2 separate regions of the Homo sapiens genome follow, and region 2 is reported to be linked to region 1. Evidence: microRNA targets listed by miRTarBase, many of them from high-throughput screens and not tested one by one. Region 1 holds a microRNA gene; the other region holds the end of a gene's coding sequence.
What was found. The annotated mature microRNA hsa-miR-3666 reads CAGUGCAAGUGUAGAUGCCGA and lies in region 1 at 5,866-5,886, opposite strand. An mRNA with a match to its seed (bases 2 to 7 or 8) in the 3' UTR can be bound and repressed. Matches are read on the target gene's strand: a 7mer-m8 pairs with bases 2 to 8, a 7mer-A1 pairs with bases 2 to 7 and ends in A, and an 8mer does both.

Region 2: miRTarBase lists NIPA1 as a target of hsa-miR-3666. Seed matches in the 3' UTR shown: 7mer-m8 at 4,104-4,110 and 7mer-m8 at 3,924-3,930.

The regions. Positions count from the first base shown.
Region 1 is chr7:114,649,507-114,659,258 of GRCh38, reverse strand. MIR3666 (microRNA 3666) reads right to left here and starts at 5,914; the gene lies at 5,804-5,914. FOXP2 (forkhead box P2) reads right to left here. Exons shown (of 17, transcript NM_014491.4): 9 at 6,969-7,056; 10 at 5,250-5,333; 11 at 992-1,193. RefSeq lists an enhancer at 2,941-4,205.
Region 2 is chr15:22,823,613-22,833,364 of GRCh38, reverse strand. NIPA1 (NIPA magnesium transporter 1) reads right to left here. Exons shown (of 5, transcript NM_144599.5): 5 at 3,576-9,637. The coding sequence ends at 9,126. Among named protein-coding and RNA genes, the nearest start is that of NIPA2, 10 kb to the left of the region's middle. RefSeq lists an enhancer at 5,724-6,476.

The DNA of each region.
Region 1 (9,752 bases):
GAGGAAGCCACCGACTAGTGAAAGCACAAAGCATGACAGTGGAATTGAATTATATGGAAAAGGCCATTTCTGACGCGAAGTGCAAATGAAGCATCCCCTAGTTGTTCGTGGTACTTCAGGAACTGTGCGACCTGCTGGCCTGAGGATTTTTTTCCAATAGCCAGGTCTTCTTTAAAGTGGGTAGTTTAGGCATATTCTTACATGGACTTTTGCCCCCCTGCTATAATCTTTGCTTCTCTCATCTAATACGTCTTAAAGTACAACAGGCTCACCTCTGCATCTGTGGCCATCTAACAAAGGAAACACAAAACCCTCACCAAGCACCCATGTTGAAAATAACTTCACTTTTTGTAAAGAGGGGGCTCTGGGCTAATAATGGTTACAATGTGTGACTGTGATTATCCAGATGCCCCAGGGATGGCAGGTGGGGGAGAAGGGAGAAGGGAGAAGGGTAAGAGAGGGAAAGAAGGTAAATTTGTGTTCCATGCAAATGCAAAGTTTGCCTCTCACAATGCTTCTTAAGCAAAGTGCCATATCGGCATTAGGAGCTGTGACAGGATTTCATTTAGGTAGCACCTTGATAAAGACTGATTCATGTAAACCTCGAACTGTCTTGCATAAAGCAACGGTGTTTCGTATATGTCCTTTAAAATGGCTCTTCTCTACAGCATTACTCACAGATGTTGGATTGCTAGTCTTCCCTCAGAGATCAAAGGATCTCATTGAATTGAGGTGATAATATGGGCTATCCTGACATCTCTCAGTGTCTCTAATGGGGAGAGCTTTCTTTCCTGAACAACCATTCAGAACAATTCATCATGATGTGCTTAGGGAATCGCCCCTATTCGCATTTACCAGGAATAAAACAATTATCACTCCATAAATCATGACATGAGTTTCCATGTGCTCTGGAATGGCTCATGTACAGTTGATTCAGCTACAGTTTTCCTCTCCCAAAGTAAAAGTGCTCTACTGAGCATTCATATCCTACCTGATGACATGGGAATGTTGTATTTGTCTGAATGTCGCCTTCGTATGGCTCCCACATTGGGCACACTGGCTGGGGTGATTACTGAGGGTCCCTGGGTAATCGGGGTGACTGGGGCCGTTGGTGTGGTAGGGGTTTGAGGTAAGCTCTGTGGGGATGTCTCCAACATATTCTTCGACATGGTGACACTAGACACCAGATTTAGCTGCAAAGGCCCAAGAGAAGGGCAGGAAAAAGGTAGAGACAAGAGAAAAAGACTTAAAAAGGTTTGACAAATGAGAGTGGATTCACTTCTACAGCTGTGTTGCCACTAATAAGCTGCAAAAGGAAGCAGCCAATCTCAACTAATTACAGGATGAAATTGTATCATAAGAACTCTAATTAGAGGATTCTGTTAGAGGTTATCTAATAATCTACTGCAATGTTACTTAGGACTAACTCCTTCTTGTCCTACCAGACTTCAGCGAAAGTCTATTTCCTTAAATAAAAGCCAGTTGCTGATTATCGACTGCCCCTGTTGTTAAACAGGTCTAGCCCCCAGTGAAGCAACAACAACAGCAATAATGAAGGATGCAATGTTTTTAACCAATAGGATTTAAAGTAAGTTGCTATTCTGTTGATGCCAGAATTTTTTTTTTCGTAGTCCCAAATCTCAGCTGAGAGGCTCCAGCCAGCTGGAAAATTTTACACTGACCTTTAGTCTCCTTGCTAATTTGGTGGAATGGTAATGACATTACTACATATTCAAACAAAATTGTCTTAATTGCAAATTAGCCGGAGGAGGCTGAAAATTTTCAAATTAAATCTGATTGGAGATGGAGAGAGGGAAATGGAATTTCCTCACTAACAATCATTTGTGGCATGTGTTAACAAATATAATGAAATGTCAAGTTTGCCAATTCCTCTGGAAGTATCATTTTCAATTTATGATTACAGTGTCACTTAATGCTGATGTACCCTGGAAAGTGGGTGTCAGGGTAGAAAAAAGAAAAAAGGTGAGAATGTATGCAAGCTGTTTAACAGTGTGCCCTTCATTACTCCCCTCAGAAAGGCCCTGTTCTTCATTATCAAAAAACTCATATCACCTCTGTCATATTTACCACACATCTTTTGTCATAAATAGCATCCAATTAGCAAAATTTTTACGCAGGGCAGCACATAAAAAGATTTCTGCCATACATTTAAATGGTATTCACAAGAGGTAATCTGTGGTCCTTTTTACTTTATACAGTAGGCTATACAACCAAGCAAGAAAACTAATTCTAATTGTTCTGTTTCTCTATAAAGTAACTGCTGAGTGGCTAAATAGAGAATATTCAGCTTTTGTTTATAATTTAGTAACACCTGTCTTTTTAAATCCCAAATACACTTCTTAAGATAAACCTTTTTTTAATGGGGAGAAAATGATGTGTACAGCATTGATTGATCTTTCTTTGTGGATTTGTTTTACACATTTAGTCAGTAGAGAGATTTGTTAGGGAAACAAAAATTAACATATGCCAGCTAATTGTTCTTCTTTCTTGGGCAGCAGCCAGAAGAAGCACATTAGCAGTCTAATAATAACGACTGGCACCCTGAAGGCATCCCCAAGTGCATCTGTTCCCAATAAACCACAAACTGTTATTCTGTTCATACTCTAAGCCAGCAGACTGGGTAGGGAATTCTTTGTTACGTACATAAATGAAAGCTGAGATAATGCTCCTAAATGCTGCATTTAATACATTTACAAAGCCACTGGTGTAAGCTTCTCTGGGATGTACAAGAGCACCTCTGCATAGTTTGAGAAACGCAGAAACATCCATATGCATCTGTATGTGACTTTGCAAATATTCTAAAATATCAACATCAGAACATATACATAACAATGTTATATTTAGAAAATATCAGCATTACATACTTGTATGTTAAAAATATGAAAAGAAAAGAAAAGTATTTCCCCATACATAAAAAAAAAAAACTCAGCTGGATGGTTACATATTCACTTTTAGAATTGCAAACCAGAACAAAATGGCACATTCAGAACCCAGAAAATACCAAATTGCAAATCAATGAAATATCTATCCTGATGAATATGTGACAGGACTCTGTACATTTTACCAACACATTAAAAGTTATCAAAACAGGAGAAATACATCTTTTTCAATGCAAACCACTCATGTTTACAATGTTACGGTAACTTATTCTGCTATCCTGTAATAATAAGCATACCATGTTTGTAGGCGTACAATCACAAACTGATAAAATAGAATTTATTATTAACTAAAGGGAAGCATGTAAAAGCTAGGATGAGCACTTAGCCACCTCGACTCATCTGAATATAGTCAAGGTTGGGTGAAACTCATTATTCAGGACTCGCAGCCTTGATAACTTTGATTTTCATCCATCCATAGCATGGCCAAAAGGTACCATTTAATGAAGTACCATTCAGAGAGTAAATGGGGTCATATAATAGACAGTGCGGTTGCACCTTGTGTTCATGTACTGATAGCTGTTAAGGGTGCAGTGATGAACCAACAGAGCTCATTTCTCCTTGGTAATAAATTCATGCTATTAATATTTATCAAATGTGTGGGCCGTCTCAACTGAGCCACTGCACATGAGACCATAAATCTCTACTATCATATCAATTTTGAAGCTTCTTTTGTACAGTGTATAAATTTTAGGGTTTTTTTGAGGGTTGTGAGTATTGACCACTCTTCTTTCAAACCGATCTGAGGCCAATAGTGCAGTTCCTCACTTCAGATATCGCTAGTTCCAAAGGGAACTTTAAACTGTGGTTTCATTTTAAATCGCTCATCTAAGATTCTGTATTAATTGCCCACCATCAAACGCAATTAGCAATTCTTTCATGTGTGGTTTATGTAATGTAATACTTCAATTACATTATTCATTCAGGTTCTGTTTTGGATTATAGGCTGAAAATTCTTTATTAGTGTAGATGTAACCATGCTGCTGGAGTTTTAAAAAATTTACTGATTGAATAATTAATTGGAAAAGAACAAGCTGCAGATTCCTGATGGATTTATGAGACAATTATTCTGTCTTGTGATTATCTACATTATACTATAGAAGCAATGAGGGAAAAAATCTTATTGAAAAGATAGTCATAAATACATGATCAAAAATATCCTCAAAAGTTTATTTTTTAATTAAAAACTCAGACATTTTAGAGTTTAAAAAGTAGTATGTCAGATTCAAAAAGATACATGTCTTTTTTCTTCCTATAAAAATGTTTTTACAGTACTCTACCTTTAAATACAGTACAAAGGAAAAGCAGAAATAGCTTAGCAGAGTTTAAATATAATCTCTACCAAAAAAGTAAATTTTGAATGATATTAATTGATAAGAAATATCGAGACATTACGAGAAAATTAGACAATATAGTCGTCTTCTGTCTCCTCCCCAACTACAAAGCCAAATGTTCGTTTTTTACCTAAAGAAATAGAGGGAGAGGCAAGACTGGCAATCATTAATCATCAGGCTATACAGGGGCCTTATTAAAAAGTATCCCACAAACTTTCATTAAACTAGAGTTACCCAGTTGATTACTCTAAGTTTCTGTGCAAACATCAGCTGAATGAGATAAAGTATATTCTTTTCAACAGTCTGTGTATCTGACTACATTATTAGGTTGAGCTTAAATCTCATATATTTTTGAGGGAAACTAGTCTTAATTTTCTATAATCACCCACTTCTTTTTGTGATAAGCTCTCTAAATTAACATTATGTATAATGTACAATAAAACATATCAATATGTGAAATACATCTTAACTGAAATAACCAAAGAAATAGGACAAAATTGGCTATAAAAATACCATGACCTTTATGACAAAATATTTGATAAAAATCTATTTATATGTATCTTATGATTGATCTGCCTTCTTCAGCACACCACATACATTTCTATTTGTGATTTGTACGTTACTACTTTTCAGGTTGCTCAAAGAGGGTTTCCTTTTAATATCTGTAAACCTATCACAGAAAGAAATTCTCTCTGGCTTCAGCCCCAAGGCAGTGATTTGTGCACTGATAGGTGTACTTTGTTTAGTGTCACCCATGGTGTAGATTGGATAGATTTTGTAAAAGATAGCATTACTTTAAAAGAAACATACAATTTGACAAGCGATTACATTTTACTTTCATTTTATTGCCGTATTTTTCATCACACTCATTGTTTTCTAACTGTCACTAAATTGTTCATTTTCTTAGTCTGTTACATTGGTAGAGCTATTTACTGTTTATAAAGCAATATGCACTTACAGGTTTGGGAGATGGTTTGGGCTCTGAGGGTCGCATGTGCAAGTGGGTCATCATTGCTTGAAGACGTTCGCGTTCTTTAGAAAGCTGTTAAGAAAGAGTGAGATCAGAAGCGTTTTAGAAATGACTGATACAGCTATTTTATTGCAGTGATACATCTTATCATTGAGCTTGCCTCAGAATAATGATTCCTGCATGTAAAAGTCTGCGTCAGGAGGAACTTATCTGGGAGGAAATGCAACTTTAGCTATGGAGGGGGAAAAACTTTTATAGCTTTTCTTATGTTAAAAGGTCAGAGAAAACAAATAACACTTCATCTTTTTGTCAATAAGAGAATTGAGGTCACAGTTGCCTCGACAGTAACAAGTTACTGAAACCATAAATTAGAAGGCCCATGGTGTCTCTTTAAAGTCCTGTGGACACTGTTAGCAATGGACTAGTGCCAACAGCTGTGAAGGGGTGAAGGGTTCTCAAAGCAAAGTGCCTGCCAGGATTGTCTACACACTTCATGCATTCCCACTGAGGTCCAGTTAGTGCCCCCTGCAATCTGCCATCATCAATCTAATTCAATAGAGTGACAGAGACCAGGCAGTGTGAAACGCTGAACTCTGCCACGGAGTCGGCATCTACACTTGCACTGGGTCTCATTACAACTGACGGACCTTACTTTTCCATCAGTCAGACACAGCAGAAGGAAAAAAAAAAAATAGGCGTAATTGGTCACACCGAAGACTGTATCATCAGCTGAACTCTTATGTTTTAGTCTACCTTTTATAAATGGTAAACAGGTTTATAAAAAGCTTTTTAAACTTTAACAGTGATGGTGCTTTTTGTGTTCTTGATTATTTTACAAGTCAAAACAAAATATTTTTAGTAAGCTCTCTGAAAAAAGCAATGACACGAATTTGAAACAAGATGTAATAAAATATGAAGAAAAATCGTATCTTTAAATGAAACAAAGTATTAGTTTCATTGAGAAAAGATCATCTTTAAGATGAAATGTTAGAGAAAGCCTTAAAGGCTTAGTAAAACATAACAAGAGTCAGACTTTGGGTGACATAATTGCTTTCTGATTAGTTCTATGGATTCTATTTACTTCTGGCCAAATTCTGTTTCAACATTAATAGAATTTTTTTTAACTTAAAACAGTCGCATTTGATACAACATGTGTGTATTATCATCTGTGATATAAATTATCTGCCTTTAATCTAGCTAAAGAAAAGTATAAAGATTTTTTTGCAAGTTCTTTAATTAAAATTACACTAGAAAAAGAAAAGAAAAGGTTATCTTTCAGGGTGTTAGTTATATTACAGGCATGATATTGTAAAGACTGGTCATTTGCCACAATATAAAATCTCATGGAAAAAAATCAAGGTTAGCTCATGTAAAAACTCTCTCTGTAATAAAATCATATCTAATTGGGAGTTTGGTCTAACCTGCATTGGGAAAAACTTAGATCTGACTACTTTGGGATATTCAAATTCATATGATGTGGTCTAAAAGTTATAAAAATATAAGTGATAAGTACATTAAACTACAGCAATCCTTCCTGGGTTATCAATAATTGCCACTGTTTAAAACAATCTAAAATATCATGTATCTCCATTAGTATTGAATGGCTAAGACAGTAAAATGCAGGCTGAAAGACCCAGAATCTGCTCAGTACTCAATGTAACACACCAGAAATCTAAGAAGAGTCCATTAAGTGAGCATTTAACAAACCTGTATTTCTAACTGTTGCACCACCTGCATTTGCACTCGACACTGAGCAGTGCTTCGGTCATCCAATGCGTGTTCATTGTTAAGGTGCCTAAACAAACAGAAGACACAAAACAGAATGTAAAGTGATGTCGATCTTAGTGGCATAGGCTACACTTAAAAAGCACTACACTGAAGTCAGATGTTTCTGTGCACTGGGAAAACAGAAAGCCTTGAAACCATACAGATAAAAGTTAAAGCTGCTTACGTGTTGTGTGAAAATTATTTATGTAATGTAAAGAGACTCTTCAAATGGCAGAAAATGTCACTGTCTCTAAGCTTACCTGTTATTACAAAAAATATTTCCCCAGACCATTTACAGAGTTATAGTAGAAGTCATATTATTTATGCCATTTTTTTAAAAAGAACAGCTTACAAATCTATGAACCAAAAGCAATTCTGAAGAGAACAAAGGCAATTTTCTATTTCATTGTTAGAACAGTTTGTTGTTTCTATGATGTATTTTAGTGAGCAATGTTTTATTTCATTGGGATGTGGTATGAATTAGGTAAAGATGGCAAATTATCTCCCGTGGAAAATCAATATTTATGAAGAATGATGATTTGCTGTTAGTAATAAAGAACTTCATTGAAGATTTTGATCATTAGAATAACAAGATTGACATTTCATGTCCAGTGTTCTAACTAGGAGACATTTGTCCTAATCTTATTTTTAAAATGGTGAAAAATAAATCATTCCAAATGATCTCACTCTAACCTTGAATATGCATTAGTCTACCATTATTATTTCTATACGATGTTTAAAGAGATCTCTTTAATGAGTGGTATGTTAATACACCAAAAGTAATTTAGTAAAGCAGCATCTCCAATGAACATGAAAACATTTAATAATATATACTCTGTAATTTGTAATACATAATGTCTTTGATGCTTCCCAAAATTAAAGAAAGTAATCTTCAAGTAATTCAATATCCTTTAGTGTATCTATTTCACCAATGGGCAAAGTAAGGCAACAATTTCAGAGATGTTCTCATCATTGCATATAAGTGAAATGGCATATTGAAAAGAAATTCACAAAATTAAATAAGAATTTATATATTTACCCAAGTGGGCTCAAGTATCATTTAGAATGATATAATAGTCTAAAAAGTTTATAATAGCCCTGGGTATACTGAATTCAACAAATATATTTTTGTATCCATTCAAATTATTTACTTTTATTTCTTGAAGATCACAGTGAGGCAGAAAAAATATAAGACACATACATGTAAAACATATGAAGAGTAATTAAAGTCGTGTTGCTGATAAAAACTAATTTTATTATAAACAAAAGGTTTATTTGTTTATATACCTAGGTTCAACAATCAGAAACCTTTGTTTTGCCTATACCTTGATAAATTAAACCAGTTTGTTTTAATACTTCCTTATTGATCATAACAACAAAACCTCCATGTATCTTGTCACAATGTCAGTCTTGGTTGAAGAGAAACTGTGGACTAAAATAGCAAGGTGGATAAGGTCAAGCTGAAGGAGTGTGGCTGGAGTGCAGGGGAGGCACTTCCACTATACCTGTCTGCTCTCTAAGCTCAGCTCAGGTTTGTTCTGCTGTGAACCTGTGAGGAGGATTAACATTCACTCATGCTCTCTGGGAAGGAGGTATGGAATGTGAGAGTAAGCCAGAGGTTAGTTAACAGAAAGTGTCACCAATTCCTAAATAACAAGACTACATTTAAAAATTGTTTCCCAGGGTTTTTTCCCCCAAAATTTAAATGAACAGTAAGACAATTTTCTACCAGCATAATACAGTTGTGTGTTGTATTCTTAAGGCTTCATATTGCTGTGTTTCCGTAAGATTTTTTTTTTTTTCACCATGAACTCTTGGGGAACACAAACATATTTATTCCATATAAGAAAAAATGTTGCATATTTTCAAAAATGCTTCAGTTATACACTGAGATTAGGGTGTAAATGCAGGAAGCAAGATAAGTAGAACATACAGGTCTGCAATAAAAGGCATAGTCACTATAACATTTTCTTGTGAAATCACTTTTTAAAATGATTTTCTACACTTGTTTACTGCTTAGTGATAATCATGATCTTATATTTAAAGAACTAAAAAAAGTACAAAATGTTTGCTTTATATACTTGGGTCTTAGAGCCCTATTCAATTTATCTATGCAGCTTTTATTAGAATAGAGACTGTAGACTACAATAATAGTCAATGAGGTTTTGTCTTGATTGAATTTTTCAGTGGAACACAAAAGAACCTTGCCATTAAAATAGTCCTTTATTCTCCTGTATGAAGGCGAAAGGTTTTTAAAGTGTTGTGATGTTCAGTAATGAGCCTCTATCTAAATTATCATTGGTGACAAACTCACAAAGCACTTTTCGAGGACACATAGTTATGAAATGCCAGAGCTGCCACTTTCTTTCCTGTAATTATAGGCTAGCTTGCAGCCCTTCAATGATCATTTATAGAACAGCCTCCAGTGGATTACTGAGAACTTGAAAAACACATACATACCTCTGCCACATCTCCCTTCTCCTTTCCTCGCTATTGTTTACCAGTGATATGTAAAAGAATAGTGCCTATTCATTCCCTCTACTTAATTATGCCAATCAAAGTACAGAAATAGTGTCAGATATAAATACAATGTAATAAGACTAAATAAATAGGCTAAGTATTAACATTAAATTATGAATTTATGAATTTATGACTATTTTGTGCCGAAATTATTCTCTTTTATGTTTTTATAACTATCTCAGGTACTACATATTACTGTTCAAA
Region 2 (9,752 bases), not on the chromosome of region 1:
CTTTTGAAAGTCCCTAATAAAAACTTGCTGGTTTTGTGGCTTGGGGGGCATCACAAAACCTACTAACATGTGATGTCTCCCCCGGACGCCCAGCTTTAAAATTTCTCCCTTTTGTACTCTGTCCCTTTATTTCTCAAACCGGCTGATGCTTAGGGAAAATAGAAAAGAACCTACGTGACTATCGGGGCAGGTTCCCCAATAATTCCCTGCCATTTTAAAGCATTTCTATTATATGAATACTTTTCAATTAATATTATTTGGTTTATTCAAGGCCATCAATGACCTACAAATGTAGTAGGGCATTTTCCAAAACATTTGTTGGGGGTGAGCAGGGAGAAACTTTCTGAAAAATATAGGAATAACTCAAGGTGAATTGAGGTAGAACAGTGGGATAGTGATTAAAAGCCAGGAGTTGGCTTTTGTGAACTGCCTCACTTGGTAAAATGGTAAGTGGATGTGGTAAGCAGAAAGCCCAAAGATATCCACGTCCTCACCTTGTAACCTGTGACTGTGCCACCTTCCATGGCAAAAGGGGCTCTGCAGAGGCAACTAAGGATCTTGAGAGAGGGAGCTGACCCTGGATTGTCCATGTGGGCCCAAAGCAGTCATGAAGGTCCTTCCAAGAGGGTGACAGGAGTGTCAGAGTCAGAGAGTAAGCTATGATGATGGATGAGTGGCGAGAGAGATGACATTGCTGGCTTCAAAGATGGAGGAAGGAGCCACGAGGCAAGATACAAAGGCGGCCTCTAGAAACCAAAAGAGCAGGGATGAGACTCTTCCCAGGAGCCTCCAGAGGGAAGTAATCCTGTCTGCACCTTGATTTTAGCCCAGCAAAGCTTGTGTGGAACTTCTAACCTCCAGAATTGTAAGATGATACGCGTGTGTTGTTTTAAGCTACAAGGTATGTAACTTGTGAAGAGCCGTAATAAAAAACTAACACAATAAGTATGCCAAATTAAGGGAAGGAGAAGATGCTGGGATCCCCCCAATGTCTTTGTCAAAAATAAAACAGATTCAGTGTTATAGATGAGCAACCTGGTCTGACCTTCTCTCCACCCTCTGGTCCATCATCTCAGTGATTTTCACACTCATTATGTTTACTTGGTCACCACCACCGCTGTCCTGCTTGCCACCATCCAGTTCCACACCTCTTTCTCATGTGCTCGGCTGGAATGAATCCTGTCCTCTTTGGACTGGTAATAGAGAGGTACCTAGATCTTTTTTTTTTTAGACGGAGTTTCGCTCTTGCTGCCCAGGCTGGAGTGCAGTGGCGTGATCTCAGCTCACCGCAACCTCTGCCTCCCGGGTTCAAGCAATTCTCCTGCCTCAGCCTCCCGAATAGCTGGGATTACAGGCGTGCACCACCACGCTCAGCTAATTATGTATTTTTAGTAGAGACGGGGGTTTCTCCATGTTGGTCAGGCTGGTCTCAAACCCCTGACCTCAGGTAATCCACCGGCCTTGGCCTCCGAAAGTGCTGGGATTACAGGCGTGAGCCACTGTGCCTGGCTGCAGAGGTACCTAGATCTTTTATATCTGTTTCTTGTCTGTGTCTCACCTCTCCAACTAAAAACCTTTTTAAAACTATCATGTGAGATTCAAACTAATGGTGAACAAGTAAGTGTGACTAATACTACAACAAACATGCTGACAATGTCAAAACGAAGGGTCATCAGATGGATGGGATGGATGTAACTAAGCAACACAGAAATTCTAGAACAAGTCCCTTGCAGGGAAGGCTTGGCTAGCAGCCAGCACAAACTACTCTATAGTAGTAACCAACCAATGCAAGCTTTTGTTCAATGACAGCAGAATTTGGCATTAATACACTTCACAGCCCCAAAAACCTATCTGGAGTTATCCATAGATGCATTTGGTGATTTCATAAAATGTTTGTTCTTGTTTTCTGTATAAGTATACTTTGATCAAAATGTGAATAATTAAATCTTTTGGGATAGAGACTAAGAAAAAAATCTTACTCATTTTTTCTCATTTGATAAAATAACTTATAGGACACCAGTCTGAGCAACATAACTAGACCCTGTCTCTACAAAAAAATTAAAAAATTACCCAGGTGTGGAGGCACAGGCCTGTAGTCCTAGCTACCGGGGAGGCTGACGCAGGAGGGTCGCTTGAGCCCAGCAGTTTGAGGCTGCAGTGAGCTATGACTGTAAGAGAGTGAGACCCTGTCTCTCAAAAAAAAAAAAAAAAACCAAAACAAAGAAAATTATAGGACACTAAAGAAGATCAGCAACAAGATTTCTAATGATGCTTGAAGTATGAAAATGCGTTATAATTGTCTCATTTTCTATGGGCTAAAAATGTAAAATGATATGTTATACAACTCAAAAACATGTCAAAGGTACTAACATATTAAAATAGAGCTGGTTTTATTTAATACTATCACTTCATTGGATCAAGAGACAGTCGCAGGACAGGGAATTTCTGCATACATCATGGATTTGCTCCCTAAGGTAGATGCACAGGTAGACGGTTTCTTTTTCTTTTTCTTTTTTTTTCCAAGACGGAGTTTCGCTCTTGTCGTCCAGGCTAGAGTGCAGTGGCACGATCTCGGCTCCCTGCAACCTCCACCTCCCGGGTTTAAGTGATTCTCCTGCCTCAGCCTCTGGAGTAGCTGGGATTACAGGCACACACCACCACGCACAACTAATTTTTGTATTTTTAGTAGAGACGGGGTTTCACCATGTTGGCCAGGCTGGTCTCGAACTCCTGACCTCGTGATCTGCCTGCCTTGGCCTCCTGAAGTGCTGGGATTATAGGCGTGAGCCACCGCACCTGGCCTTTTTTGTTTTGTTTTGTTTTGTTTTTGAGACGGAGTTTTGCTCTTGTTGCCCAGGCTGGAGTGCAATGGTGTGATCTCGGCTCACTGCAACCTCTGCCTCTCAGGTTCAAGTGATTCTCCTGCCTCGGCCTCCTGAGTAGCTGGGATTACAGGCATGCACCACCACCTCTGGCTAATTTTGTATTTTTAGCAGAGACAGGGTTTCTCCATGTTGGTCAGGCTACTCTCAAACTCCCGACCTCAGGTGATCCGCCCGCCTCAGCCTCCCAAAGCACTGGGATTACAGGTGTGAGCCACCACACCTGGCCCACAGGTAGACATTTTCTACATTGTTATAGAGATCTAGAGGCTAGTCATTTCTGTCTTTTTTTTTTTTGAGATGGAGTCTCGCTCTGTTGTCCAGGCTGGAGTGCAGTGCTGTGATCTCGGTCACTGCAACCTCTGCCTCCCAAGTTCAAGTGATTCTCCTGCTTCAGCCTGCTGAGTACCTGGGACTACAGATGTGCACCACCATGCCTGTCTAATTTTTGTTATTTTTTAGTAGAGATGGGGTTTTACCATGTTGACCAGGCTGGTCTCAAACTCCTGGCCTCAAGTGTCCCACCCGCCTCAGCCCCCTAAAGTGCTGCGATTACAGGCATGAGCCACTGCACCCAGCCTAGGCTACTCATTTCTAAAAAGAGAATAGGAAAAATGGGAGGAACTGGGATGATCTGGAACCTGAGACTACATAAGCATTTCAAGTAAAGGGAAAAAAAAAAATCAACAAATGTTCAGCTAGAAATAAGTTATTTTATTTTAAAACACATACAGATTAATAAATATTACTGGAAAACTTAATAGCCTTTTTATTTACATGAGGCAATAACAACATGCTATGACTACATCTATAAAGCAAAATATAAGCAGGTCTTGGCCACTGACACATGTGTCTATGTATGCTAATTGGAAGCTCCCCAATACATGTCTATGACAAAACTTTTACACAACCAATCAACATTTGACATTTTTTACATCTTCTTCCTCTCATGATTATATTCCATTTTCAAGAAAATAATAGTTATCCTTTGAAAAGGCAAAACGCTCAAGCCACTGAAAAACAGTATCTAAATTTCTGTAAAGTGCAAAAATACTAAGGTGGGGGGCAATTATTATATTCTGACAAATAAATATTCTGAACTTTTCAACATGACCCTTTGGCACTAGTGGTTTGGGAGCCCTGACATTCGCCTGGTGTCAGTTCAGCATCAGGGTTGAGCTGCTTGGAAGCAGGAAGTTCAGCGTCATTTATTACAAATCCAGTGCAACAGAATCCACGTGTTTCACAGGCCATTAAATCTTTTTCAGAATACAGACCTCGGCCGAATGTCAGGAGCACATCACACCATCGGAAGGTGATCTTTCTGTGCGGCTTTCTGAAGTCCCTGTTTAATTTCCATATTTTACAATAGAACATATAAAACCCTTTCTTTTAAAACAAAAAAAGGAAAACTAAAGCTTCATGGAATCATGCAAACTTTACACCCAGCACTTCCTTTGCTTTCTCAGCGCATGAGGCTGTGTGTCCTACAGCATGGTCCTGAGCAGACTCCATGGTCCGTGCAAGCGGAGTTTCCACTGTGCCACTCCCAGGCACTTCTGAACACGGTGCTCTCATCTCAGGCCACCAGAACACTGCTGAAAGTGCCGGTGTTTTAGAAACAATTTGAAGAACCATCCCACCCCTTTAGAGGTAGAAAAACTGAGGCACAGAAAGGTTAAGAGACTCACCTATGTTTGCACAATTTAGGGAAAAATAGAGAAAAGAAGAAAAACATCCTCCTCCCTGGCTCATGCTCTGGGCCCTGGATTCTGCTTTTTAAATGCTTTTGGGTACATGTGAAATAGATGTTTATTTACATGATCCTTGTTCTACTGAATATCAACTTTTTACTAGACAACATATTTTGATGTAACAAAGTTACATTTTCTTAAAATATAATTATGTTGTTGCACGTGAGGAATGTGAATGAAACAAATGAGTCGTGGTAGTGGGCCAAATTCTCACTGCTGTTCCTGTAATTCTGAACCTTTTCAAGTATACAATGGAGGTATAAGAATCTGGCCAGATGTGAAACATCACCTATAAGCTAAAGGACAGACCCTTAAAATTCATCACCAGTACAATTGTGAGGTGGAAATGAGGAATACAAAAAATTGAGGTATTTTATATGATAAACTGTCTTGTGGTGTGACTGGTGTACAAATTGGTCTTTTCTTTCCAACTCACATTAACAGAATCTACCTATGAATATGAGTAAAACCTATGAAAAATGAACACGGATATGTCCTTGGGAGGAAGGTCACTGTTAAGGAGTCAATGATACATTTTTGGTCCCTGAGAAGGCAAAACACCAAGACTCCATCCAATCCCGCCTGATGGACGAACAACGCCCTCGGTGTCAGACACCATGAAAAGAACAACTTCAGAACACGGAAGCTAATCCATGCTGTCGGGAACAGACCTTACACTGAAATGTTCTCTTTCTAGTTTCCTGCTTGGTGGCAGGAAGCCTAAGTCAGCATCGAGCAGGTGTCAGGTCGAAGCGGCACAACGGGAGGGGCTCTGGGAACCACCGGAGTACTCTCTCCCCTCTTCTGGGTTAGCTGAGCAGCTTGAAGAAGAGGAATCCCCCGACCAGACAGAAGGGCAGCAGCCTGTGCCCATCACACCTGTTTCCACGGACCAGGTGTCCGTGCACACCTGGGAGACACTGCATCTCCAAAGTCTAGAACTGGCCCCTAGAAGTTGAGCACAACATTTACAAAGAGCTGAGTCATCTAGGAAGAAGGAAAATAAGACGACTGCACAAGTGAACAGTGCTCACTTCTACCAGAAAACAGATGTGAAATCCAAAGAAGAACAAACACCAACATATTACCGCTGGGATGAACTTCTGGAAAGACAACTGGGTGTAGTAAATTGGCTTGAAGAGCAGGAATTGAAAGAATATTCCTTATTGCTGAACAAAGAGCTGCGAAGTATATTCACTAACATTCTGATAGGAAAAGATCTCAATGAGAGCTGAGCAAGGCCACCAGAATACCAAATTCCTCCCCAAAGTCCCCAGCATGGGCAGGGCCTCACTCCATGTGGCACTGGAAGGACTTCCCTCCCCAGCACCTTCTCCACAGAGATGGCATGGTCCTGCCAGCCGGGAAGATGCTCCAGGGGGGCTTTGTGGTGCTGGGTTAGGGTTAGAATCCTTAATTGGCCCTACCTTTGATCAATGAGCAGAACAGGAAGCAATCCTTTCAAATGCAAATATTCAGAGGAGAAAACAAGGCATTGCCCAAGAAGAGGAGAGAAATAGCCTATTTAAGTATCTATCAAGAGAAATCTGCATATTGTGATCAAAACCTTTGATTTTAGAGGATGCTTGAAAACAAGTATACAGTAAGCATCTTTTTTTTCAAAGAATAGTATGATAATGAAAATATTTCAAGTACATGTACTTTTGGAAAGACCACTAAGAGATCTATCCATGTTCTAGGCCCTCCCCCAAAGTTCTCACTTTGGGGCTTTTTCATTTTCAAATGAATGATGAAAACATAATTTTTTAAAATAAATACTATCAAATCAGAAGTTATATGCTCTATATTAAATTTGAAAATTAGACTGTTCAACCACTGGTCATGTCATTTACTTTGAGGCTGGTGTCACGTGCTTGAAAAACAATGGATGATATGAACTTTGTTTCACTGGAAGAAAAGCTATGTATCCTACTGAAGTATCTGCTGAACAGAGGTAAACCTGAAAGATTCTAACTGTCCCAGGACCAGTCACCTTCAAGGGTAGAAGAGCTATTAATACTTTTGAGATTTTGTTTTACTCTAAGAATATTATAGAGAAGATCATCGGGTATCACCTCTCAGTATCAATGGTATAATTGTGGATTAAAATATACTAAGGTACACCAAGAGCTGCCTTTAAACTAAATTTCCCACAAAAGCTGTAGCAACACAAACATGATCATTTTCATGTGACACATGAACTTTCTCATTACACTTGTTAGCCACATGTATTCTTTGAATATCTCACACCCCTTACCTAGGAAACTATTTTTATGCCCAAAAGTATATTGATACTGCTACATTACGTTTTCAGAAAGTTCAGTTCAGTAAGTTAAGGCCTGCATTTCTAAAAGCACTGATGATAAAACACAAAACCTGCAAGAGCCAATAAAAAGAGTAATGGACTTTGAGCATTTGTTAACCATCCATTGAGAGGATTTAAGATTTTTAAAAAATAATGTTGTTGCTGCTCTCAGTTCACAAATCACTGACAACCCATGATCATCATGTACACGTTTACTCCATAAAGGTATTTTTCTCTCTATATTAAACTAGTCTCATTTTATTTAGCCTCTTTACTCAACACTTTAGGAAGCTATTCCTTGAGACTTTAGAAATGTTCTTTTTGCCTACAAAAACACATTTTTTTTCTTACTGAGGAACTTTAATTGGGTACTATTCAATTTTATGTTCTACTTCACCTAATCTACTTTACCCAACCCCATCTTTCAACTTGGCGTAGTTCCCTGCTGAGATAAAACACTGGCCATGAAGTACATGATACCGTGGTGAAATATGTGCATCACTTCATGCTATGCTCCCATTTGGAACACATGGATGGGAACACTATAGACAGAGAATGACCTCTTTGATTCAAATACTGGCATAATTAATGGCTCTTTTGCATTTAAGACACATAATGAGAGGTTAGCTGAGGAACTCTAGGATGCTCTGCCATTGCAAACAACAAGGAGATGGCTACATTTATTGGCTTTTTGTTAGAAAATCTTTCAAAAACTGCATATTGCAATTTGTAGAAGCTAGCCTAACCTCAATTGTGTCCTTTAACTTGTTCCTGTATGACAGGGTACTCGATATATGAGCTATTGAACAGGTACTCTCCCACTTAGCCTTATTATCAAGTTACCTAATTTATTTCTTCTGAATGGCCATGAATGCTTGCTGATAAAGAATGTGGATATATTTGATACTGGATCCCAGGTAACACAGATCGAATACAAATAAAATAATACCTCATGCTACTTAAATCAACTGTCTTTAATTGGACAATAATCACATGTTAAAGGGGTCAATTTGCTCTAATGTGTCTTTAGTCTTGACTATCTTCCAGTGAATATACAGTCATGAACCACGTAACCATGTTTCTGTCAAAGACATACCACTTACATGACGGTGGTCCCATAACATTGTAATACCATAGTTTTACTGTACCTTTCCTATGTTTGTAAACACAAATACTCACCACTGTGTTACAATTGCCTGCGGTATTCAGTGCGGTCACATGCTGTACAGGTGTGTGGCCCAGGAGCAACAGGCTGTACCATCTGGCCTGGGTGGGTCATAGGTGTCCCATCTAGGTTTGTATAAGTGCACTCCATGATGTTCACACAATAAAGTCACCTTACAATGCATTTCTCAGAATGTTTCCCTATCATTAAGTGACATGTGACTGTATTATTTCTAACTGCCTTATACATTTGTAACTTGAATATTGAAATATTAAAGCATACTCGAAGTTGCATTATTCTAATCTAAGAACATATACACATTAAGAGTCAAATTAAGTTAATAATTCAAGTGATAAAGGCACTGAAATTGATTTGAGCTATTGAAAAGTCATCCTGCCAGTGGAACACTACCTCATGTTCATTAACTCTTCTCTCTCTCTCTATTTACTATTAAAATGTCTTGGGTGGGGGTGGGGGTCGAAGAGTCAACTTGTCAGAGGATTAAAAACAATTCAATGTATATGCCTCTTATTTGGATGACATACTTGAATGTTATACATGCTTAATGCAAACTAACACAACTACAGACACATTCACTGTACAGTGCCAGAGTTCAAGACAACAATCTCTCATTCCCAAAGTAATCTAAGTAAAAATATCTCTGCTATCATGTAACAACTAACCAGAAAGAGCCCATCTTTTTCTGTTTAAATAATGTTAAAATGTTTTAAAAGAAGAGAATATTCATGAAAGCTTCCAGGTTAATGGAAATGAAAATGAGATTCGTCTCATCAGAGAGAGATGGTGCCAGGCAACCGTTGGGGACGTTTGGGCTGCAGAGGGCTGGCTGGGCCTCTGCTCTGGTGCTGAGCCATGCTCCCCGCTATCCACCAGACCACCTGTTACTATCCAGTCAATTCTAACACCATGATCGAGGACCTCTTCTACTTCACATCCAATCACGGCCAGAAACCACCTCCAATGCCTATTCCTCGAACCATCCAAGCTCCTATTGCAATCTAGTCTGTTTTCATATTAGATTTGTTCATCTCCCCAAGGTTGAAATTGAACTCTTTGAACACCTGTATAAGGACAATCCCCACGGAGACGGTCGTGAATCCACAGGCCATCCCCAAGAAGTCCACCAGGCCCACGTTGCTCCACTCCCGGAAGAGGATGGCTGAGGCCAGCAGGACCAGCGTGGTAAACACGACGTAGTAGATGGCCCCGAACACCGAGGAGTCGAAGCACTCCAGCGCCTTGTTGATGTACCTGAACTGGACGATGATGCTGCAGCCGAGCACGGCCAGGAGTACCAGGCACAGGCAGAGGGCTCTCTGACTGGACGGGTTGTTATGCAAGATGTCTTGGGCCGCCAGCCCGATGCCCTTGGTGGAAGGCACGGTGAAACTGCCCAGCAAGGAGCAGATGCTGATGTAGACCATGATGTTGGTGGGCCCATGGGCCGGCGCGATCCAGAAGATGAGCAGCAGCAGCATGAGCAGCACGATGCACAGGTAGCCCACAAACACTGGAACACAGACAGCACACAGTCACCCGGAGCCACCGCCTAGCAGCCGCAACCCAGGAGGTGGACTGGGGCAGCACCCGGGCCCCCACCCGCCACCCGCCACCGGCCTCTACTG